Homo sapiens: one gene and its partners. The protein of the gene in region 1 interacts with the protein of each later gene in a pairwise test. Each region holds a gene or a part of one and is shown on either strand. Other genes may lie near its edges. The genes, in order: UBQLN1, NGLY1, ZNF343, TRIM23, VPS54, GLYR1 and ZNF829.

The links.
Region 2: the proteins of UBQLN1 (region 1) and NGLY1 interact in binary tests that used the Homo sapiens proteins (3 or more experiments, as listed by UniProt).
Region 3: the proteins of UBQLN1 (region 1) and ZNF343 interact in binary tests that used the Homo sapiens proteins (3 or more experiments, as listed by UniProt).
Region 4: the proteins of UBQLN1 (region 1) and TRIM23 interact in binary tests that used the Homo sapiens proteins (3 or more experiments, as listed by UniProt).
Region 5: the proteins of UBQLN1 (region 1) and VPS54 interact in binary tests that used the Homo sapiens proteins (3 or more experiments, as listed by UniProt).
Region 6: the proteins of UBQLN1 (region 1) and GLYR1 interact in binary tests that used the Homo sapiens proteins (3 or more experiments, as listed by UniProt).
Region 7: the proteins of UBQLN1 (region 1) and ZNF829 interact in binary tests that used the Homo sapiens proteins (3 or more experiments, as listed by UniProt).

The regions. Positions count from the first base shown.
Region 1 is NC_000009.12:83,666,459-83,669,958, reverse strand, and holds part of UBQLN1 (ubiquilin-1), read left to right. Parts: intron 1-631; coding exon 632-774; intron 775-1,327; coding exon of another isoform or gene 1,328-1,429; exon of another isoform or gene 1,430-2,451; intron 2,452-3,500. UniProt on the Homo sapiens protein: Plays an important role in the regulation of different protein degradation mechanisms and pathways including ubiquitin-proteasome system (UPS), autophagy and endoplasmic reticulum-associated protein degradation (ERAD) pathway.
Region 2 is NC_000003.12:25,762,944-25,766,443, forward strand, and holds part of NGLY1 (peptide-N(4)-(N-acetyl-beta-glucosaminyl)asparagine amidase), read right to left. Parts: intron 1,369-3,500; coding exon 1,123-1,368; intron 1-1,122. UniProt on the Homo sapiens protein: Specifically deglycosylates the denatured form of N-linked glycoproteins in the cytoplasm and assists their proteasome-mediated degradation. Cleaves the beta-aspartyl-glucosamine (GlcNAc) of the glycan and the amide side chain of Asn, converting Asn to Asp.
Region 3 is NC_000020.11:2,498,916-2,502,415, reverse strand, and holds part of ZNF343 (zinc finger protein 343), read left to right. Parts: intron 1-1,673; 5' UTR 1,674-1,760; intron 1,761-3,500. UniProt on the Homo sapiens protein: May be involved in transcriptional regulation.
Region 4 is NC_000005.10:65,610,834-65,614,333, reverse strand, and holds part of TRIM23 (E3 ubiquitin-protein ligase TRIM23), read left to right. Parts: intron 1-114; coding exon 115-236; intron 237-478; exon of another isoform or gene 479-607; intron 608-2,452; coding exon 2,453-2,731; intron 2,732-3,290; coding exon 3,291-3,473; intron 3,474-3,500.
Region 5 is NC_000002.12:63,911,429-63,914,928, forward strand, and holds part of VPS54 (vacuolar protein sorting-associated protein 54), read right to left. Parts: intron 2,860-3,500; coding exon 2,754-2,859; intron 2,498-2,753; exon of another isoform or gene 2,397-2,497; intron 1,883-2,396; coding exon 1,795-1,882; intron 1,234-1,794; coding exon 1,112-1,233; intron 998-1,111; coding exon 917-997; intron 1-916. UniProt on the Homo sapiens protein: Acts as a component of the GARP complex that is involved in retrograde transport from early and late endosomes to the trans-Golgi network (TGN).
Region 6 is NC_000016.10:4,812,789-4,816,288, reverse strand, and holds part of GLYR1 (cytokine-like nuclear factor N-PAC), read left to right. Parts: intron 1-1,641; coding exon 1,642-1,752; intron 1,753-2,333; exon of another isoform or gene 2,334-2,450; coding exon 2,451-2,552; intron 2,553-3,500. UniProt on the Homo sapiens protein: Cytokine-like nuclear factor with chromatin gene reader activity involved in chromatin modification and regulation of gene expression. Acts as a nucleosome-destabilizing factor that is recruited to genes during transcriptional activation.
Region 7 is NC_000019.10:36,909,792-36,913,291, reverse strand, and holds part of ZNF829 (zinc finger protein 829), read left to right. Parts: intron 1-3,500. UniProt on the Homo sapiens protein: May be involved in transcriptional regulation.

The DNA of each region.
Region 1 (3,500 bases):
AACCTGAAGTATGAAGACGCTAGATAACTTGCCCAAGATCACATGGGTTAGATTAGATTTGAACCCACGTAATCAGGCTCCTGATACTGCTTGGAGTCACTGTGCTCTATGGTTTCAAATGTTAAATGTGCCTACCATTTTACTCAGTGAGTGGCAGTACACAGTGAAAATGGGTGGAGGCATTACATCTTTTGTTGCCTTGGGCATGAAGGCTTACTTCTTTCATAAGGGTGGGCAATATTAAGTGCCGAATATGATTCTAATTAATTCTTTGCAGTCTTGGAGGAAAAGTTGGCTCAGTCCTTTTCACTTTATGGAATTTTTCAGCAGTAATTTTGACCATACGTAATTTTTGCCTTAAGTTGACTTCAGAAGCTAGCTCTTCATTAGACAAGATTTTACTGTAAATGCAGAATGTTTAAACTCATCAGTCCTCTTTTCCTGGTATATGTTGGGCATGTACTTTTAGAGATGTTTTAGTTTTAAAGTTCTTTCGTAGTTCAGTTGATACATAATATGTATAATCATTTGTACTTGGTGAAATTAAACACAGTGCATATTATATTTTAAAGCTTTAACTTTTGTTTAAGTATTTTTCCTTAATATGTCTTTTTTAAAAACAAACTTTCAGCTAGTATGTTCAACACACCAGGAATGCAGAGCTTGTTGCAACAAATAACTGAAAACCCACAACTGATGCAAAACATGTTGTCTGCCCCCTACATGAGAAGCATGATGCAGTCACTAAGCCAGAATCCTGACCTTGCTGCACAGGTGAGTTTGTAATTGTATTGAAAAAGACTGTGCAGTGTGAATTAAAATAACCTAATCTTGTAATTGTGATTTTGGCACATTTGTGTTGTGTATGATATCTTAATACACTAGAAAAATAAGTAAACTGTGTCTCCAATTTTTTAGACCGTGTGTTTCTTTGCAGTAAATTAATACTTCATATGTAATTAAAACAACTTTATCTCTGCCATTCATTGACTAGAAAGAAGTGCAGGTTTAGTTTGTTTCTACATATGTTGAGTTAGGAGACAAGTACAGAGTTCTGGAATGCCCACTCTTTTGAAGATAAACTACTTAATGAAATGTAAATCTTGAAAGCAATTAAGAGCAATGTTAATACATTTGAAATACTTTTATTTAGTAGATCACTCAGATTATAATAGTCATGCTCAGAATGGCAGTTGTAAAATAGCATTTATTAAAGACGGGAATTTGTCAGAACAATGTTCTCCTTCTTTCAACTATTGATTCCCCTGCTGAAAATCGTATACAGGTCCCTTATTAATGTATTCCTTTTTCTAATTTGTTTCTAAAGAGACCACAGCTAAGAAAATTGGGGATCTTAATGCTGGCTGAACACTCAGGATCACTTGGGAAGCTTTATAGACAGTACCGATGGTTGGGGCCTCATCCTTAGAGATTTTGAGATAATTGCGTCCGATAACCCTTTCTCCCTCAAGTTGCCTAGGTACTATCTAGGTTCCATACCACAGGGCTTGAAAAACCACGGAGAATGTGAAATAAACCTTGATAATCTGTAGTTTATATTTGCTGTTCGTTAAAAATGGCTTCTGTAGTGTGTCAGGAATTTGGAAGACTTTATAGTTAATCTCATCCCTTAAATTTTAAAAGCTTTAAGTCAAATGAATGGTTTTTATTTTCTAAATTCTAAAACTATATTGATTCAGGTATCTTTGTGTATAATTCTCAGTAATAACTTATGCCCTCACCAAATTTGTGGAATTGGAAATAACAAATTTTAAGAAGAATTTTTGTGTCTGTGATTCTGTATATTGGAGGTACATTTTATGGAAGATTGATTTATGCATATGAAACTTATCAGACTGAGTTGTTAGTATTAAATGCTTCAATTTACCATAATAAGCCATTTTAAGTGTGTATTTGGCTAATACTGAATGTGCATCTTGCTTTTAAAATTTGACTTTAACAAGCACATGCGTAGCAATTTTGTAATAATCTTACTTTAGTAAAGTGACTTGAGCACTCACATACTATTTTTTTACTCTAAAACAAAATGTTGCTAGTACTAGATTGGCATGTCTTTTATTACAGATAATTTAGAAACTTTTACAATGTTCTTGTTATCTGCAGATTAAAATTTGTGGTTTTTCTATTCTTTTGATTTTTAAATATTTAAAAAGACTCTTGAGTGTAAAAACTTGTGGTATAAGCACTCAGGTAAGTTATAAGAAGTATCTAATAAGATGATTATCTGTGAAAGGATACGTTTAAGATGACATGCTTTTTTAAGATGAAATGAAGTGAATTCCAAAAGATATGTGTGATAACCTCGTTAATATGTTGATGATAAGTATTTGGAACCAATAAAGAAGCAGGTTTGTTGACCTTAAGCCTGTATGAGTTTACTTACTGTGAACTTACTGGTCACTTTGAAATAAATACTGTATGTTCCTGAAAGGTTGTCTGACATCTGCTTTTGTTATTGTATTGAAATTAACTAAAAGATCACTTTGCAAGAATTGGGGCGAATTTTCTCTACCAGCATTTACATTGCTCTTAAATACGGTTAACTTCTTGAGGGCAAGGATCATTTCCTCCCCAGACTTTGGATAGATAAATAGGCTATCAGTAAATCCTTGTTAGTTGACTTTTTACTCCGCCTGGGGAAAATGATATAAAATGTGTCTTTTGAAGCTACAAGAATTTATTAGCTCTGGTTATGCTCCTTGTGTATTTTAATCTTATTTTCAGGTATATGACATCATACTAATAATGATCCTGATTTTTAAATTCTTAACGTTTATTTGAAGTTTAGGAGATGCCACTTTTCTCATCTCTGGTAGTAGTGAGGTGAAATCCAGATGCTAATCTTGGTGTTCTCAAATGGATTTACATCTTTTAGGTCTTAAATCATTTTAATACTTTTCCCAGAGGACTGTTGGTGCTAGGCCTGACTGATTTTCACCTAGCAGCTCCATTTCTCTGGCAAGTTGGTTGCTGTTTTGCGGTGTTATTTTTTTGGACCTAATATTAGCTGTTTTGTAGTAGGCAGGTAGATGTAGTGGTCCTTTTCAGATCTAGATTTTCTCTGTGCCTGCCACTTGTGTGTTGAGGTTTCTAAGCAAGCCATGTTACATAGTTCATGTATTGATGTTTATGTTTATTCTGCCAGTGTAGTAGAAAATATATCTTCATGAATGCCAGTTACTCCCATTTTTCTTTCAATGGCATATATTCACGTTTGTTCAAGGAAAAGCCTAAGAAAATGATTGCTTTTATTTTTTAGGATATTGCATGTCATTATCATAACCACCATTCTCATTGAGAGAGAATATGCCTCATTTTTTTGTTTTTGTTCTTCTGGAGATCCCTCTTGTGGACAGTATCTTCCCTTTTCCTTTTTTTATTTATGTTCTACCTTCCTCCCTTTTAAGTGCCAGCTGAGGCACTTGGGGGAAGATAGAATAAAACAAGGTACATTACTTGTTTCAGATATTTCCAGTTAA
Region 2 (3,500 bases), on another chromosome or scaffold:
AACTCCGTCTCAAAAAGAAGAAAAAACAAAAATTAGCCAGGAGAGATGGTGCATGCCTTTATTTCCAGAAACTCAGGAGGCTGAGGCACGAGAATCACTTCAACCTGGGAGGCAGAGGTTGCAGTGAGCCAAGATTTTGCCACTGTACTACAGCCTGGACAGAATGAGACTCTGTCTCAAAAAAAGAAAAAAACAAAACAAAAGAAAAGAAGTTTAAACAAGATTAAGAAAATGTGAATGGCTTTCCTGAGCCAGGACACTAACAAAATACTACTTAGCCCAGGAAAGAGATATTTTGTAAAATAAAATGTTTGCAAGCTTTTTTGCAGATTGGTTAACTATGTGCATTTTAAACTATAATACTGCAATTAAAAAGATAAAGTAGGAAATCTTAAAAGATATATTCTAACACTGTAATTGGAAAACTCCTAAGAAAAGGTGTTAAAAACCAAGAAAGATGTTAAGTGAGCTTCTGTAACTGTACCAACCTTAACTGCAAAACTGATGAAGACCTAAGGTATTCAAAATGGAATGCACATGATCTCAGGGAGGGGCATAAAAATCCATTGAGGTGCTTGTTAGACTTACAGAAATATCACAAGAATTTTTCTGACAGTAAAAACTTAGGAGAAGAATATGTAAGGACCTTGGTCAAAAGAGATTTTTGTAAACAGGATAATTTCCTATCAAATGGAATCATTTCAGTTTATCAAGAATGCCTGTAAGTTTGACTTTAGTTCTTCACAAGTATATATGGTGTATATTAATAATAAAATTTCACTAATTTGCTAGCATCCACTATCATTAAATTAATGCATTCTTAATTACCTTAAACCTAAAGAAGCTTTTTTATTGAATTAAGGTATTGATAATGGTTGTGCTGTTGGAAATAACCCCCACAGTGAAAGGCAGCAGGTACAATTTAGATCAGAAGTATTAATGCAGTAGAGGAAATCTGACAATTTTTTAAAGAGCTGAAGAAATTTGGATGTTTTAGAGTTATAAGAACTAAGAACAAAATATGGGGCATAAATTCAGGAATAAATCATAACACATTCCAAAGCTTTTGCTGTTTCAACACTTTGAAAGAAACAGTTAAAGAAGGTTTAATTCTAACATTACCGTTGAAGCAGATGGTGGATCTGATGACTGCCCTTGACGGTTCCTTGTGTGCTGGTTTAACCCACTGGGATTTGAAGATGGTGTTGTAGGAAGCTGGGTACTGGCTGCAGGTTGCTGAGATGACTTTACTTTGTGGCTCTTATTTGAGCCATCCAGTCTGCTACTTCTCTCTATGGCAATCAGGTCACGAATTTTTTGCAGCTGCTCCACTGAAGCTTTTTTAGGAAAGATGAGATGTGTTTCTCCCTGGAATTTATAAAATTAAAAAAAATGTGAACCTTTGCTTTATGCAGTCATTCTTTTGTGCACACACACACAGAAATGTATAATGAAACCAATAATATAGAATGCATGTTTCTAAAATCATACTGTTTTCTTACCATTATGGTTCTTTTTAAATACAGCCTAAGGTAAATAATGCCTAAACATAAACCAGAAAATTAAAAAAAAAATTATCTCCTTTTTGGCATTTAATCCTTAGCCTATTTAATGTGGTTCAAAGGACTTTCAGGAAAAAATATTTGATCTTCTAGAAACAATAAGTCAGAAGGCCTCATAAGGGTTGCAAAAATGCATATTCCTATCCTCTCTGCAATAGTATATGATACTACTATTCTCTATGAAATTCCCTATGAAATAATAATGACAGTAGAGATACAGCCACACAAAAGAATCCAGGGTCACATAAAACCAACAAGAAGTTATCTAACAACCTTTGAATCTTGTTAATCTGAGTCTTTAAAGAATAGCTACATGATTAGAAGCCTGTGTATGGGGTCAACTAATTTTTCCACGATAACGAAAAGTACACCCTGATAGTCAATCCAAAACTATGGATGGTTAACAGTAATAGGAAGGTAATCCGAACAAAACAAAAGAAATAAAAATCATGTATTTCAGTAGTGACTCATTTAAAGAATACCTATAAATATGCTAAGAATGCTTTAAAATAAAATGCTACAACAAATTCTATAATGTAAAACAGTAAATTACTCAAAACAAGAAAAAAGGTGAAATGAAATGACAATGTATTTGATCAAATTTCCAGGTATTGAAAAGAAACAATGTTAAAAACAGTAATTTCTCCAACTGCAAACAAGATAAAAAGTTGCAGCTGGGCATGGTGGCTCACGCCTGTAATCCCAGCACTTTGGGAGGCTCACATGGGCAGATTACCTGAGGTCAGGGGTTCGAGACCAGCCTGGTCAACATGGCAAAACCCTGTCTCTACCAAAAATACAAAAATAAGCTGGGCATGGTGGCGGGTGCCTGTAATCCCAGCTACTTGGGAGGCTGAGGCAGGAGAATTGCTTGAACCTGGGAGGCAGAGGTGAGCTGAGATCGTGCCACTGCACTCCAGCCTAGGTGACAGAGCAGGACTCAGTCTCAAAAAAAAAAAAAAAAAAAAGTTGCAACAGTCTGTAGTACACAGACCTGCAGATCATGAGCATTTAAATTAAACTCCAAAATCGACAATATTACTGTATTTCCCTGGTGATGGCAGACCTACAGGAATCAACTGAACAAGACATTACTCAATGACATGAAAGTCAATTCCATCTGAATCCTTTTTAAAAAGCTGGATTAGACCAGCAAGCTCCACGTATGATTCATAATTGCTATAAAAAAGACAACTACAATGTATTGTCTTTGTGTGTTCTAAGTACTGTGCTAGGCATTTTTTTCTCTGAGGCAGGGTCTCCCTCTGTCACCCAGGCTGGAGTGCAGTGGAGTGATCAAAGCTATAACCTCAAACTCTTGGGCTCAAGCGATCTTCCATCCTCAGCCTCCCAGCAGCTAGGACTACAGGTGCATGCCACCACACCTGGATGATTTTTATTTTTTGGAGAGACAGGGGTCTCACTCTTTTGCCCAGGCTGGTCTCAAACTCCTAACCTCAAATGATCCTCCCACCTCAGCCTCCCAAAGCAAAATGCTGGGCGTTTTAAATACATCATCTCAAGTAATACAACTACCCTGAAAAGTAGGTATTAGATTAATACTTTTTTTTTTTTTGGAGACAGAGTTTTGCTCTTGTTGCCCAGTCTGGAGTGCAGTGGTGTGATCTCGGCTCACTGCAACCTCCACCTCCCAGGTTCAAGCAATTCTCCTGCCTCAGTCTCCCAAGTAGCTGGGATTACAGGCATGCGCCACCACACCTGGGTAATTTTTGTATTTTTTAGTAGAGACAGGATTTCACCACGTTGGTCAGGCTGGTCTCAAACTCCTGACTTCAGGTGATCCGCCCACCACAGCCTCCCAAAAAGCTGGGATTATAGGCGTGAGCCACCATTCCCGGCCAATACTCACATGAAAATACAAAGGCTCAGGGAAGTTAACCTGCTTGAAGCCACAGAACAACTGGCAGAGCAGGGATT
Region 3 (3,500 bases), on another chromosome or scaffold:
GGGGAAGTTCTCCTGGATAATATCCTGCAGAGTGTTTTCCAACTTGGTTCCATTCTCCCCATCACTTTCAGATACACCAATCAGACGTAGATTTGGTCTTTTCACATAGTCCCATATTTCTTGGAGGCTTTGTTTGTTTCTTTTTATTCTTTTTTCTCTAACTTCTCTTCTTGCTTCATTTCATTCATTTGATCTTCCATCACTGATACCCTTTCTTCCAGTTGATCAAGTCGGCTACTGAGGCTTGTGCATTCGTCACGTAGTTCTCGTGCCATGGTTTTCAGCTCCATCAGGTCTTTTAAGGACTTCTCTGCATTGGTTATTCTAGTTAGGCATTCGTCTAATTTTTTTTCAAGGTTTTTAACTTCTTTGCCATGGGTTCGAACTTCCTCCTTTAGCTCAGAGTAGTTTGATCGTCTGAAGCCTTCTTCTCTCAACTTGTCAAAGTCATTCTCCATCCAGCTTTGTTCCGTTGCTAGTGAGGAGCTGCATTCCTTTGGAGGAGGAGAGGCACTCTGATTTTTAAGAGTTTCCAGTTTTTCTGCTCTGTTTTTTCCCCATCTTTGTGGTTTTATGTACCTTTGGTCTTTGATGATAGTGACATACAGATGGGGTTTTGGTGTGGATGTCCTTTCTGTTTGTTAGTTTTCTTTCTAACAGTCAGGACCTTCAGCTGCAGATCTGTTGGAGTTTGCTGGAGGTCCACTCCAAACCCTGTTTGACTGGGTATCAGCAGCGGAGGCTGCAGAACAGTGGATATTGGTGAACAGCAAATGTTGCTGCCTGATCGTTCCTCTGGAAGTTTTGTCTCAGAGGAGTACCCGTCCATGTGAGGTGTCAGTCTGCCCCTACTGGGGGGTGCCTCCCAGTTAGGCTACTCAGGGGTCAGGGACCCACCTGAGGAGGCAGTCTGTCCATTCTCAGATCTCCAGCTGCGTGCTGGGAGAACCAATACTCTCTTCAAAGCTGTCAGACAGGGACATTTAAGTCTGCAGAGGATTCTGCTGCCTTTTGTTTGGCAATGCCCTGCCCCCAGAGGTGGAGTCTACAGAGGCAGGCAGGCAGGCCTCCTTGAGCTGCAGTGGGCTTCACCCAGTTCGAGCTTCCTGGACGCTTTGTTTACCTACTCAAGCCTCAGCAATGGTGGGTGCCCCTCCCCCAGCCTCGCTGCCGCCTTGCAGTTTGATCTCAGACTGCTGTGCTAGCAATGAGCGAGGGTCCATGGGCGTAGGACCCACTGAGCCAGGCGCGGGATATAATCTCTTGGTGTGCCGTTTGCTAAGACCATTGGAAAAGCGCAGTATTAGGGTGGGAGTGACCCAATTTTCCAGGTGCCCTCTCTCACCCCTTTCTTTGACTAGGAAAGGAATTCCCTGACCCCTTGCACTTCCCGGGTGAGGCAGTGCCTCACCCTGCTTCGGCTAACACTCGGTGCTCTGCACCCACTGTCCTGCACCCACTTTCTGACACTCCCCAGTGAGATAAACCCGGTACCTCAGTTGGAAATGCAGAAAACACCTGTCTTCCGCGTCGCTCGCGCTCGGAGCTGTAGACTGGAGCTGTTCCTATTCGGCCATCTTGGCTCGTCTCATTTTAAACTTGGGGATTTCTAGCCTCCATATCTGGGTGGTAGGAGACAATCCTGAATCTCACACTGCCTGTTTCATCCTCAGGTCCACCTTCTCCAATCCCTGCCTGCTGGGAGAGGACGATCTCTTGAGAAAGGAAAGACTTCTGTGCTCCCGAGAACTTCCTATCAGGTAGGTACCACTTACCTTTCACATTCCCATAGCGTCTTTTCTGCTCGAAACCATGGCTGTATTTCCTTTGCCCGTCTGACATCTTGTACCCTGAAGTGTTCCAATTGAGGCTCAAGGCCTTGCTTGTTTTTCTACAATACTGGGGTGATTTTAAGGGCAAGGATCTCCACAGGGAATATTACCCCAGACTGGTACTCTCATTCAGGTTATCACCGTCCTTGCCCCAGCCATATTTCATCTTGGCTGCTGGATTCCCAGGGATTTGTCAGCTACTGTGAAATAAAAAATGATGGTAATTAGCATTTATTGGGCCATTGTTCTGTGCCAGGCAACTGGGTTTATAGTCTCCACAATATTTTAAACTCTCAACAATTTGAAAGTTAGGAATCAAAACTCTGAATTGATAGAAGAAGAAGTGGCATGTTAAGAGGTTAAGAAATTTACTTGTGTAATATGACCGGGTTGGGTAGAATTAGGATTTAGAGCTTCCTCAGTTATCAACATTCTATAATCCCTGTTTCATTGAGCCCCCCACCTCCTCATTTTCTTGTTTTTGCTGCTGGAGTATTTGGAAGGAAATCCCAGACATCACATAATTTTACCTATAAATACTATCCTATGCATTTCCAACAGAGAAGGACTATTTGTTAAAAATGTAACCATAATATTACCACATTCAACAAAATCGACAGTAATTCCTTAATGTCTTAACTCTAGATTGTTTTAAAATCTGCCCATTTCTTCTACAAAATTGCTATTGCTTAGTTCAAACTGTACACACTTAACAATTCAGGTAAGAACTATAAGAGGGAGAAGTATCTGGAATTCAGCAAGGCCAATTCTCCCACTCCCTTTTCTCTTTACCTGTTGATGATTTCTGTTAATGACCGTGTCTCCATCCCTGGTCACCAGCCGGAGCTCTGAGTCTTTCTTGCCTCCTTGTTCTTCCTGAAATTCTCATCCTTCTAATTAGTGATGGAGTCCTCTCAATTCTACCTTGGAATACCCCTTTATTATTTTCCCCTCATCTCACTGTTGTGCTACCCAAATTTTCATCTTTTCTCCACATTCTAGTTCACCTTCCACCCTGCCTTTTAAGTTGCTCCTCTGAAGGAAAAATAAGGATCATGCCACTCACCTACTCAAGAGGGCCATTTCTTTTTCTTTTTTTTTTTTTTTTTTTTTTTTTTTGAGACGGAGTCTCGCTCTGTCGCCCAGGCTGGAGTGCAGTGGCGGGATCTCGGCTCACTGCAAGCTCCGCCTCCCAGGTTCACGCCATTCTCCTGCCTCAGCCTCCCAAGTAGCTGGGACTACAGGTGCCCGCCACTACGCCCGGCTAATTTTTTGTATTTTTAGTAGAGACGGGGTTTCACCGTTTTAGCCGGGATGGTCTCGATCTCCTGACCTCGTGATCCGCCCACCTCGGCCTCCCAAAGTGCTGGGATTACAGGCGTGAGCCACCGCGCCCGGAAGAGGGCCATTTCTTATTACCTACCTCCAACTCTGTCCAAACTCAATAATTAGAGTGTGAGGCCACATGCGGTGGCTCACGCCTGTAATCCCAGCACTTTGGGAGGCTGAAGTGATGGATCACTTGAACTCAGCCTGGACAACATGACAAAACCCCGTCTCTACTAAAAATAGAAAAATTATCTGGGCGTGGTGCTGCACACCTGTGGTCCCAGCTACTCAGGAGGCTGAGATGGGAGGATGGCTTGAGCCTGGAAAGTGGAGGTTGCA
Region 4 (3,500 bases), on another chromosome or scaffold:
TAAAAATTTAGACATTAACTACTGAACTATATTAGAAATTACTTTTGAGGTATGGGTAAAATGATTAATAGTCCATTTTGTTAGATTTAGTTTTTGTTTTTATATTTATTCTAGGTGATTCAGGTGTCTGGGGATTGAAAAAAAATTTTGCTTTATTGGAGCTTTTGGAACGACTGCAGAATGGGCCTATTGGTCAGTATGGAGCTGCAGAAGAATCCATTGGGATATCTGGAGAGGTATTGATCATACTTGGTGAAATATTTGTTACGAGCATGAATTTTTCTTTTAATAGATGCCATTATTAGCACAATATTACTTCATTTATTTCAGCAGGTAAATTTCTAGAAACACAACTTTTCATTACATTACAGTTCTGAAGGCCAACACTATTCCCAAGAGAAAAAACTAGAATTATTTGAAAATCCTATGCCTAAACTATGCTTTATGTGTGAACTTTTTTTTCCTTATCATAATTCAGTTCTACCAAGAATAAAGTGAAAAGAGGAAGAAGATTATGGAATAGTAAGAAAGATATGTAAGCAACAGTAGAGAAGAGGATGCAAAAGTAGTCAACAGTAAAACTCAATGAGAGAAAGAAAAACTCGATGTAAGAGGCCATTTAATACAGAGGGGAAAATGCCTTAAAGATAGCAGTAACTTCTGAGGGAATTGTTACTGTTATAGCTTCAAGAAAAGGTTAAACTTTGTATAGATGTACTGTCTTTATCCATACAGGTAGATGTCTAGTAAATATCAGAATCCATGAACACTGGATTTTAATAATGTAAAAGTATATTTTTAGCACTTATGTGTTTGCATAGCTGCACATATGTACTATAGGACATGGCTTTCGTAGGCTGTTATGGGTAAAAATATATTTGGAGTAAATATCAGTTAATGATTTTGGTGATCAACTTGCAAACCACATATTTTGTATGAAGGAAAAAAAATGTCGGATTGCTTTCACTTCTCTTTCATTAGATGATGATTTCTTTATACTAAAGTGAATCAGTGAAATGAATTTCAAACTGCAACACTCTGTTTTCTAAAAGTTATGCAGTTCTTTCTGTGCTAAATCTTTAATCTTTATTTCAAAAGACATTACTGTTAGCTAATGTTGACATTATAGTTTATAATTTATTTATTTGTCAGGTCTGGGAAACAGAAGACCTGAATTTTTATGGTACATGTGTTTATTTCTCATAATTGCAAACAAAACTCTTCCACTTTGGATTCATTTTTTATTTAATGTGATAAAGAATGACACCATTGATGTATTTAAACATTTTTATTTTTGAAAAAATTTATACTAAATTTCTCCCCTTCCAATTATGGCCTTTTAATATTGAGTAAAAGTGTTCAAAACATTCTTGATTATCTGACATGTAATTTTTTATCTACTTGAAATAAAAGTAATTATTTCATAATTAGTTATTTTTTGTAATTCCTGAAAACTAGAAATAATATTTACATGCTTACATATAGGTTTTATTTATTTGTTTATTGTTATTTTTTAAGACAGAGTCTCACTCTGTCACCCTTGCTGGAGTGCAGTGGCGTGATCTCAGTTCCCTGCAGCCTCCACTTCCTGGCTTCAAGTGATTCTCGTGCCTCAGCTACCTGAGTAGCTGGTATTAGAGGCATGTACCACCACACCTGACTAATTTTTGGATGTTTAGTAGAGATGGACTTTCCCCATGTTGGCCAGGCTGGTCTCTTACTCCTGGCCTCAAGTGATCACCTGCCTCAGCCTTCTTAAAGTGCTGGGATTACAGATGTTAGCCACTGAGCCTGGCCTATTTTTTTTTTTATTTGCTTAAATCAGTGGTTTTCTGCCGTGATTGTGCAATAGACTCACCTGTGGAGCTATTAAAATAACATGGCGTATAATTAGAAAAATATATACAAGTCTAGGGTTCATCCACAACCTGTTGAAATAAGAATTTCTCTTCCAGACAGCTATGTTTTTAAAAGCTTACAGCTAATTCTGATGCATACTCCTACATTTTCTAAATAGCATTTGTGCTTCTGTCCTTCCTATACATCATCATGACAACTAATATTTAAAGCTATGGGGATGTATTTAATATCAGATTTTTGTAGTTTTACAGAAAGACTTTTGACTTCTCTATGGTTTAGTTTCTTTTGTGTAAAGTGAGGGGATTTGGTGGAAGAGATCTTTGCACCGAATATGAATCTATGAGAATAGTTCTATTTTTGGCTTCAAATTCATAACATATATTGGCCAGTTAATCTTGGAAATAGCTTCTTACCCCTAGAAATGAATGCTTCTCAGATGAGTATTGAATGACCTTTGTTCTTAATGACCAATATATTTTCATATGTAAATATTGTTCAGTTAAGCAAAAAGGATTATGGATTCTATATTTAAAAATTCGTCATGTTATACTGATTGGGTTCAATTTTAAGGCATTAATTTTTTGTTTATCAGAGCATCATTCGTTGTGATGAAGATGAAGCTCACCTTGCCTCTGTATATTGCACTGTGTGTGCAACTCATTTGTGCTCTGAGTGTTCTCAAGTTACTCATTCTACAAAGACATTAGCAAAGCACAGGCGAGTTCCTCTAGCTGATAAACCTCATGAGAAAACTATGTGCTCTCAGCACCAGGTGCATGCCATTGAGTTTGTTTGCTTGGAAGAAGGTTGTCAAACTAGCCCACTCATGTGCTGTGTCTGCAAAGAATATGGAAAACACCAGGGTCACAAGGTATGAATTTAATTATTAATCAGTTGGATCACTGTAGCTACTTTACCAGCTCAGTATTCGTTTTCACTGACCTGGTTCTTTATTCTGAAAGTAGGGATTGAAGAAGAGTTAAGTGATGAGTGATTGGGTTTGGTAGCATGAAAATAAATGAGAGATTTAATTTCTGAATGTTATAAAAAAAAAAAAACTTCAAAGAGGCATCATGATTCTTCACAAAAAAATAGCTTTCGAGCAGGAAACAAACATTCTGTTTGCTTGCATGTTTTCATAATGCACCAGATTGTTTTGACAATATTTATGTCTGTTAGCTCTTACTTAGGATATGATTTTAGAGATAGTCTCTTGGTTTTTTGTTTAGCAATAAACGGACTTCCAAATTTTAAATTACTTCTTTGCAGTACAGTTTTCTTATAAAGGAGTGAAAGTAAATTAGTATTTTTCTGTGTCATAAAAGTCACTTGTGGCTGATGCTTTTTTGTATTAATAGGGATTTAAATAGTTTTTTATATTATTAGTCAATACTATGAGTTCTTTTCTCTAATTATGGTACATTTTATAGCATTCAGTATTGGAACCAGAAGCTAATCAGATCCGAGCATCAATTTTAGATATGGCTCACTGCATACGGACCTTCACAGAGGAAATCTCAGATTATTCCAGAAAATTAGTTGGAATTGTGCAGCACATTGAAGGAGGAGAACAAATCGTGGAAGATGGAATTGGAATGGCTCACACAGAACATGTATGGATTTTTTTTCTTCTTCACTTT
Region 5 (3,500 bases), on another chromosome or scaffold:
CTTTCCAGGAATCTGGGAAGTAAAAGCCGCTTTCATAATAATATTATTAATAAGATGCTATTTATCTATTTTACTCTCATTCTCTCATGATTGAACAGTGGGGATTTTTAGATGACTTGTGATATCATTATTCTGAAGGCTAATAGAATATGTGTTTGGGTAGTCTTGTGTGTGAGTGAATGGACACCACTTTATCTTGCCCTTTTGATTCTTATGTACCTGCTGTTCCTGCCATTTCGGAATCTGAAGGATGCAAGTAGGATAAAAAGCAAATCAAAGTTCTTTGCTATTAAGGTTATTCCAAATATGATCTTGGACAGACAGTATACACTGAGTAAACTTTCAGACTTTCAAGTTACGAAATTTTGGCTTTCCCACTAAGACGTGAATTGAAAAACTTAGGGAAAGTAAACAGTGAAAGATAGATCAAGCGTGATTGGGGCTGACTAAATGATATTTTTCTGAAGATACTCTCCCAGTATAACTGCGAATTCTTTGGGGAACACTGCTTCATTTAATGACATATTGGGAATGAAAAACAAACAAGAAATGAATGTTGAAATGAATTAACATAAAAATACTTCTGCATAGGATTTCTACCATCCTTAGAATCATCTCTCCTACTCCTGCCAGCCCCTTAGAATATCAACTGTTTTGGAAATCCGAAAATTTTGTTGAGTTGTTTTCTAAACCCTGAATAATTTGTTAGATAACTGCAGGTTAGACCACTATGGGGGGTCTTGGTCACAGCACATGGTCACATTTTCCTGAAAAAAAATTTAAAATTCTACTAATTGGTAAATATCCTATGAAAGTTTAGATTATCTTTTCACATCTTAATTTATAAAGTACTCCTTATAAAATAGAAAATCATAATGTCTTTGAACAAAGTCTAATAATTTCTATAAATCATTACCTTAGATAACAGCTTGTCAAATAAGCTATCCATTATCGCTACAAGCTTAGCTGATATTTCAGCTATGTGATCATGGTAGTCCTGCAATGAGAAATGATAATTGTATTTTTAAGTCCCTGGGACACATTTTTAAAATACTTAACAATTAAGGATCTAAACTTATGAAACGCCAATAGAAAATATATGAAAAAGTACCTTAGTGATATGATCAAAATGCCTAAGCATGCTATATTGCTTAGGTGGTAGTCGAGCTTCAAAATGAGCCCGGATCACAGGAATGTAGTGCACAATTAACTGCAAACATCGTGAAGAAAGAGCTGAAGATCCAGGGAGTAGATATATAATGGAGAAATAAAAAAAAAAAAGGTATTAGTTGATTTTAATTACAAATCAAATCAAATAAAAAACATCACTTATAAAGAACCAGTTTATTTCATAAACGAAGAGCCCTATGGCAGAAGGCAACATATTTCATTTTGTCTAATAATTTGATACTGAATAATGTAATGAACATGCTGCTTTCACAAAGGACTCAAGTTGTGAGTATTATCAGTATCACAATAACAAGACAACTGATTCTCTTATGACATTCAGATAGCTTTCACCCCCAAATACTTTATACACATTATATCTTAATATTTTCTAGAGTGGTGTAACTTCCAAGTAACTTATACTTGGAGGGGAAATGCATCGTAACCTTTTCCCCATGGTTAGTTTTTTTCAGTGATGAGTATACATAAAAGAGTAAGTAGCATTTATTTTTAGAGTAATGCCACTTTGGTTAGAGCCATGAAAACATGAGGTATAAAAAAACATGATGAGAACAGTGACATCACTGTTAACACTTCAGCAAGTGAATTAAACGCAAGAATCCATACCCAAATTTTTTGTAGTTATCGTTTTTAGTCCAACAACTTGCAGTGCACCAGCTCCAAGAACTAACTGGCAACTTCTTGAATTGAAGTACTAACAAAAGAAGGAGAAAAAAACCCCAAAATTTACTAAAAACTGTTCTTTATATCCTGGCAATGTGCTATTATAAAAATACATTCCCCTTTCCTCTCATTCAATGGCCAAATGAATTATCTAGTAGAAGCAATTAGTATCTATTTATTTAATGAAAAAGAAATGAGAAGGGGAGATTCTAAATGATAATATTTACTGATAAGAAAAAAGTTGAAAAATTCTAAAAATCAGTTCGCAGAAATTAATCTTTAATTTGCATGTACAAAACAAATTCGGTTTCAGTCATTCTTGTTGGGAAGTCCTATTTTCAAAAGTTATAAAAATCTGTCTTGGCTAAAACATGACAACTCAAGTCAGAACATAATTAACAGATTAGAGGTTTGAAAAAAATAATAAAGCATTTCCTCCGTACTGGTAGTTTAAAATATCTCAATATGAAATGGCTGAATAAAATCATCACATTTTCATTTTATATCAATGGTTCTGAAAGAATGATGCAAGAAAAATCTCTAACCTTAGTGAGATGAATTTTGTAAAGTTCAGTGAATTCCTTCCATGCACATTTGAAGCCAGTCCAGGTTTTTTGACCTAAGTGGCCTCAGTCATGTTCAGCACCTAACGAACAAATCATCTCCTGTCTCCAATGTCATTAACAACTCTATGGGTGAATGAGGATCACTAACTGTGGAGTAAGAAGGAAGCAGGCAGCCTGTTTCCAATAACATGTTGTGATTCAACCACAATCAAATGTTATAAAACTAATGTCTTAAAGTTAATTTGACCTTGAAATGTCTTTGAGTTAAGATTAGTCACACCCTAATGTATTAATTCCTCGAAAAATTTTTCCATAATGGAGTGAAGTCATACATACCTTCAATAAATCTGACAGACGAGTAAGCATGTCAGTAGTAACAGATGGGATGTTATCCACACACTGGCAATATTCAAGGATAATTCTTATTAACAGCAATACGGTTCTACAAGAAAAGAAAAATGGCCCAATAGGAAATCAAAACAAGAAAAATCAAAAGGATTTGGCATATAAAAATCAAATTACTTAATGGCACAAAGGATCTCTGAGAATATAATGACCTTGGTAACTATGTTAAAGTATGCATTTTACCTACTAGTACAGCAGGTTCTTGACTAACACAAGACAAGAGAGGTGTCTAGAATGCAAAATTTAAAGAGGCTCTTACTCTGTGCAATTGCAGGATCAGCTTGCACAACACTGAGAATGAGTGGCTCCTTAAATTCTGTACAACAGGCATAATACTCTCTGTATGGCATTCTTATTAAGTAAGGGAGTCGCTTCAGTAAGACAGGTATTGCATTCATTAGCCAATTCAGAAACACTGACAAAAAGCCTATCCAGTGTTTCTGATTACCAACATAGTAGGTCCTCCATCATAACTAATGAATTGATGAAGAAAACCTAGTCCAGATTTTCTTAGTGAGATGGAAAAAAAAAAAATCTATAATGGCTTCTAAGGAAAACATGTCTCCTAAGAATTTTATTGGTAGGTCACAAAAGGTTCTCTGGCTGGGCGCGGTGGCTCACACCTGTAATCCCAGCACTTTGGGAGGTCAAGGCAGGCAGATCACTGGAGGTCGGGAG
Region 6 (3,500 bases), on another chromosome or scaffold:
TACTATAGTCCCAGCTACTTGGGAGGCTGAGGCCAGAAGATCTCTTGGGCCCAGGAGGTAGAGGCTGCAGTGAGCTGTGATCATACCACTGCATTCCCACCTAGGCAGCAGCAAGACCCTGTCTCAGAAAAGAAAAAGGACAAAAAAATGGCTCACAAAAGAGGAAACAAAGGCATAAAAAATATTCGGTAATCAGGAGTAATTAAAATATATCAAACAAGGCCGGGTGCGGTGGCTCATGCCTATAATCCCAGCACTTTGGAAGGCAGAGACTGGGGGATAACGAGGTCAGGAGATCGAGACCTCGGTGAAACCCCGTCTCTACTAAAAATACGAAAAATTAGCCGGGCACAGTGGCGGGCGCCTGTAGTCCCAGCTACTCGGGAGGCTGAGGCAGGAGAATGGCGTGAACCTGGGAGGCAGAGCTTGCAGTGAGCTGAGATCGTGCCACTGCACTCCATCCTGGGCGACAGCGAGACTCTGTCTCAAAAAAAAAAAATGAAACAGTTGCCTTTTTTGACTGGTTAAATGATCAGGTAGGAAGAATTTTACATGTATTTATGGGCACTTATTTGTAGTTTTTAAATTACATACTTGGTACTGGCATAATAGGAGAGCTTGCTGGTGATCTTTATGAAGTGACATAGTCTCATTGGGAAGTCATCTGTCTACATTTGTTGAGAGCCTTAAAACTTTTAGAACCTGTTTTATTCTATTTGTGGAGACCTGAATTTAAAACATAGAGAAGTTTTGTACGTAAAGATGTTTGGTGATGTGATTTTACAATTGAAAGTGGGCTAAGTGTCAAACTACAGGTCAGCCATTAGGTAAATCACAGTATATCTCTCAGTGAAGTTTTCCATAGTCAACCACTATAAACCATAATTATGCCAGAATTATGAAAGACAACAATATAGATAAATGTGAATCATAAACAACATTAAAAGTCTGATAGAAAATAGTAGGCCCATCCAGCCTGGGCAACATGGTGAAACCCTGTCTCTACAGAAAAAAAAAAAAATCACACATGGGGCATGCACCTATAGTCCCAGCTATTCAGGAGGCTGAGGCAGGAGGATCACTTGAGTCCAGGAGGTTGAGGCTGCAGTGAGCCATGATTGCACCACTGTGCTCCAGCCTGGGTGACAGAGCAAAACCTTGTCTCAAAAAAAAAAAGCCAAAATGGTAGTGTTTTTAGGCACTTCCAGAAGTCTTATTAACCTGACAACAGTGTTGAGAAACAACCCAAAAACGAATGGCCACCAGGTGGAAGGCTTCCAGCGACATCCCCACATTCCCAGCAGAGTGTTGATAGCTCAGGGCCACAGCCAGGACAGCACAGCGGGGGCTGGGGAGAGGTGCTACTGTTCATACCCCATTCTTGAAACAGCATACCTTCAGCAGACACTTGTGAAGCAGTTCATCATCCTAGGCACTCGTCATGCAAAAACTGAAGATGGCCAGTAAAAGGCCCCGTGCACTTCCCCAAAAGTTGGGCTCCTATCTCCATGACCCAGGCTCCCGGCCTCAGCCTCCTGCCTTGGTAGGCCGCCAGGAGGCCTGGTCAGCAATTCTCTGGCCTGGCTGGCATGTTTGTTGTGCACTGCCTGCAGCTCACGTTAGGATCTGTGACTTTTGCAGTGTGATTTGTTCATCCAGGAGGGGGCCCGTCTGGGAAGAACCCCCGCTGAAGTCGTCTCAACCTGCGACATCACTTTCGCCTGCGTGTCGGATCCCAAGGCGGCCAAGGACGTAAGGACCCCCTCCCTCCCCTCAGCAACTCCGGGTCACAGCCAGGATTGCTGGCTGGCCTCTTCCCCTCCTCCCCTGCACACCAAGTGAGTGTCCACATGTGGGGGGCTGAATTTCCCATCAGGGGCCATCTCCCATTGTGAAGGGTGTTTGCATTAATTGAATACAGACTTCCTTTAATTCAGATCAAAGAATGAACACTACTAGGGCCCTTGAAGTCTGTGCTGAAATGTGTCTTGAACAGGCTTCATGTGTTCTTGTTGAACTAGAAGCTTTGGAACTGAATGTGCCTTTGGTCCAGGTGCCAAGCTTCTATGTTTAGCTGTCACTGTATTTGTATATTTTAGAAGTTCAAGTGTGGTAGTCATCTTATTAAACTGGTGACTAGCCTAATCCAAGTAAATCCAAAGAAGTCCCCAAAGTAAATGCTGAGGTTTATTCTTTTAAATGGGGTTTGTTTTTTTTTTTTTTTAAATAAAAAGAAATGCACACACTCACATAGATTCTTTTTAAAGATAAATGGGAGCATGCGGGAAGTACTTTTCTATCCCTTGCTTATTTCATTGTTCTTCCCTTTTCAGCTGATAGAAATCAGGAAATGAGCCAAAACAGCAGCAGGATTCTGATCTGAGGTCTGTAGGGCTCCTGAGCATCTGCCCGGGAGCCTGGGCTATTGCTTCTCCCTTGTGTCCCCACAGCTGGTGCTGGGCCCCAGTGGTGTGCTGCAAGGGATCCGCCCTGGGAAGTGCTACGTGGACATGTCAACAGTGGACGCTGACACCGTCACTGAGCTGGCCCAGGTAGCAGCCTTCCTTGGGCTGGCTCTCCAGCATCTTTTCTATCAGAGCCCAAGACCCAGGCTTACAAGAGTGGGCAGTTAAGTTACTCTAGAGCCAAAGCCAGAGAGGGAAGAGGAGAGGCGAGTAGCCTTGGGACTAGCCTATCCCGTGCTCCACCTTCAAACCGCAGCTAGTCTGAACAGCCATGGGCAGTCGCTGCATGGCTGGGATGGGCATCAAGTCCTGGAGCTGCCAGCCTTATGATGAGAAGCAACCCAGGCCGCCCGCCTGGCATTGGGGTTTGAGCAGCTGTCTGCATTTGACACTGGCAAAGCATCCCTCCTCCCCGAGCATCTGGCCCAAATAAGGGAGTGGGGACTTTGGGACCCACATATGTTCTGAGGGGAGGGCAGCATCCACAGGGGAGGTGTGTGTTCAGCCGAGCCATTGACATGGTCACATCTGGTTCTAGTTGTTGGTCTCTAAGAAATTCCAGTCCGGGCGCGGTGGCTCACGCCTGTAATCCCAGCACTTTGGGAGGCCGAGGTGGGCGGATCACGAGGTCAGGAGATCGAGACCATCCTGGCTAACACGGTGAAACCCCATCTCTACTAAAAATACAAAAAAATTAGCCGGACGCGGTGGCGGGCACCTGTAGTCCCAGCTACTTGGGAGGCTGAGGCAGGAGAGCGGCATGAACCCAGGAGGCGGAGCTTGCAGTGAGCTGTGATCGTGCCACTGCACTCCAGCCTGGGCAACAGAGCAAGACTCCGTCTCAAAAAAAAAAAAAAAAATTAGCCAGGCATGGTGGCGGTTGCCTGTAGTCCCAGCTACTGAGGAGGCTGATGCAGGAGAATGGCATGAACCCGGGAGGCAGAGTTTGCAGTGAGCTGAGATTGCGCCACTGCACTCCAGCCTGGGCAACAGAGCAAGACTCTGTCTCAAAAAAACAAAACAAAAAAATTCCGG
Region 7 (3,500 bases), on another chromosome or scaffold:
GGGCCTACTCTCAATTTTTAAATTGTATGTGTTTGGTACAGATGCAGAGAAAATCAGGATAAGAATAAGTCTAACTAAGTATTTTGTGTAAGGCCTTTCTATCTGAATTTCTTTTAAAGAGGACTGAGTCTTCCCTCTCCTGTGCCAAAGCCCAAATAGAATATCTGCTTCCCCTCTTGCATCAGTCTCTAGTTACACTTCTCATTTCTATAGAGAAGATTGTTGCCCAGTATTAACGGGAATAACTAGGGACATGTAGTATACTGTAGTAGACAATAAATTTTTATTTTTTTTGGGACAGAGTTTCACTCTTGTTTCCCAGGCTGGAGCACAATGGCATGATCTCGGCTCACCACAACCTCCACCTCCTGGGTTCAAGCGATTCTCCTGCCTCAGCCTCCCGAGTAGCTGGGATTACAGGCATGCGCCACTACGCCCGGCTAATTTTTGTATTTTTAGTAGAGACGGTGTTTCTCCATGCTGGTCAGGCTGGTCTTGAACTCCCAACCTCAGGTGATCTGCCCATCTCGGCCTCCCAAAGTGCTGGGATTACAGGCATGAGCCACTGTGCCCGGGGGACAATAAATTTTAAAAGAAATAAAATTTGTTTTCAGAACTTAATCTAATGTTTAATCAGGAAATATTTGAAACATCAAAATATTTGAAAATTAGAAGTAAAACAAGGATATACCACATTACCAATGTTATTTAACATTGTTTTATAGATATTAACCAAAACACTTACATAAGAAAAAAAATTAGGTTAAAAATTACAAAAGAGGGCATAAGATTATCGCTTTATAGATGATGTGACTGTGTAACTGAAAAACCAAATCTGCTTGTGATCAGCATTTTGAAATAAGCAGGATTCCATATGAAGCAAGCAAAAGAAAAACTTTTTCCTCATAATTTCTACTCTCAACCCTCTCTGTGGGTTAATTTTTTTGTTGCCCTGGATAAGAACTGGTATAGACTATAATTTTTATCACTCTTTGATGTCCTTTGATTGTTTTCAGTCAAAATCTAGTCTCATTTTACTAATTACAACCTCTAGTTCACTGTAATAATATGTGAGTTTCATTTAAAGCCTCTTCTCTGAGCTGAGAATTGCTTCAAGCTTGCAAAGTATGAAAAGGGACATAATTAAGCTTCTTGATTTCCTCGCCCTGAGCTTCTATTTCTCCTGCCTAAGTCAGTCTCTGGATCCTATGAGATTAGAGCAGGGGTAGGGAAGAGGAGGTAAGGAAAAGAAAAGTCTTTCTTGACTTGTTTTGGTGTTGATCTCTTTTGCCTTGATGGATGTTCAACACTCCTTTGTTAGGAGACACTATTAAGAGTCTCTCAGAGAAGCCCCTGCTGGAAACCTCTAATTGCATTTCCTGGGATATGCACAGCATGTCTTCTTGAAATGGCTACTTATGACATCTGTCATACACTTCTGCATTCTGTGATCCATTCCTTTGTTGAGGTCACTTTGTCCCTTTATTGGGTCCACATCTAGTCCAAAGAGGGAAATAGGTACTAATCTTTGTGCCCCCTAAGCTCCAGAGAATACAGCAAAAATTATTCCAAAGTATCTCATCATTCCACTTTGGACCCTGGAGTCTAAAGGGGCCCCCTTGCTTGTCCTAAGGTGAGGGAGAAGTACCCTCATTTCTCCTATCAATTGGGAATGTGTGTCCTTTTATAAACAAAATTTTTGGGACACTAACTGAGTGTCCTATAGTTTAACTGAATTCTGACACTACCCAGAGTTAACATAGACCCCATTGCTTAAGAGGCTCAGTCCCAGCTGGTCATGCCTATAATCCCAGGACTTTGGGAGGCCGAGATGGGAGGATCACTTGAGGTCAGGAGTTTGAGAACAGCCTGGACAACATGGTGAACCCACATCTCTACTAAAAATACAAAAATTAGCTGGATGTGGTGGTGTGTGCCTGTGGTCCCAGCTACTCAGGAGGCTGAGGCAGAAGCATTGCTTAAACCTGGGAGGCAGAGGTTGCAGGGAGCTGAGATCGCACCACTGCACTCCAGCCTGGGTGATGGAGTAGACTCAGTCTCAAAGAAAAAAAAAAAAGACTCAGTCCCACAAGACTGTACCTGCTTCAGACACCAGCCACAAGTCTAAGGCACTGCACTTCTGCCTAGCCAGCCAAAAATTTAGAGGTTCCCGTAACTCTCCTTCAGGTTCAATAATTCATTAGAATAACATATAGAACTCAGGAAAGCACTATACTTATGATGATAGTTTTACTTTTTTGTTGGTTTCTTTGTTTGTTGGTTTTGAGATGGCGTTTCACTCTGTTGTCCAGGCTGGAGTGCAACGGCACAATCTCGGCTCACTGCAACCTCCGCCTCCCGGGTTCAAGCAATTCTCCTGCCTTGGCCTTCTGAGTAGCTGGGATTACAGGCATGCGCCACGACACCTGGCTATTTTTTGTATTTTTAGTAAAGATGGGGTTTCTCCATGTTGGCTAGGCTGGTCACAAACTCCTGACCTCAGGTGATCCACCCCCCTTGGCTTCCCAAAGTGCTGGAATTACAGGCATGAGCTACCGCACCCGGCCTGATTATAGTTTTATTACAAAGGATACAACTAAGGAACAGCAAAATGGAAGAGATGCATAGGGCAAGGTATGGGGAAGGGCCTGCATATCTGGAAAAGGTCTTAAAAGTATTTTTGCCTAAGAAAATGTCTGAAATGAAAGATTCATTCAGTAGTATTTATATTGTGGAAATTTCTGCTACCATAAGGGTATAAAAGTTGAATTTGTTTATGTTAATAGGGAATAATTATGACAGTCTTATAAGAATTGTAATTTCCAAGAAACTTAAAGTATGCTGTTGTCTAAGTGATACTTTAAATTTATGTTTAACCCATTTCGCATTTTAAAAATTCAAGAAATGGGCCAGGCGTGGTGGCTCACGCCTGTCATCCCAGCACTTTGGGAGGCTGAGGCAGGTGGATCACTTGAGGTCAGGAGTTTGAGACCAGCCTGACCAGCATGGTGAAACCCTGTCTCTACTAAAAATACAAAAATTAGCTGGGTGTGGTGACCGGCGCCTGTAATCCCAGCTACTCGGGAGGCTGAAGGAGGAGAATCGCTTGAACCCGGGAGGTGGAGGTTGCAGTGAGCCGAGATTGTGCCACTGCACTCCAACCTGGGCAACAAGAGCGAAACTCCGTCTCAAAAAAAAAAAAAATTTTTCAAGAAATGTTAAAAGACATGAAAAATGGCAGGGCATTGTCCCACTAACCCAATCCTACTCCCCTTAGGTGGCTACTCTTTTTGCTGTTTCTCTTAGCATTTTTCCTATATTTCTAATTAATATTCCTATATTGCTATTTTTTGATACATATTTTCCAGTGATTTCTAGGCAGGTAACTATGGATTGAGATTTCCCATACCACAGTCTTCATTTTTTGTCCATGCAATAGAATTATATCACAATTTTTCTTTTCTTTCTTTCTTTTTTTTTTTTTTGAGACAGAGTCTCAC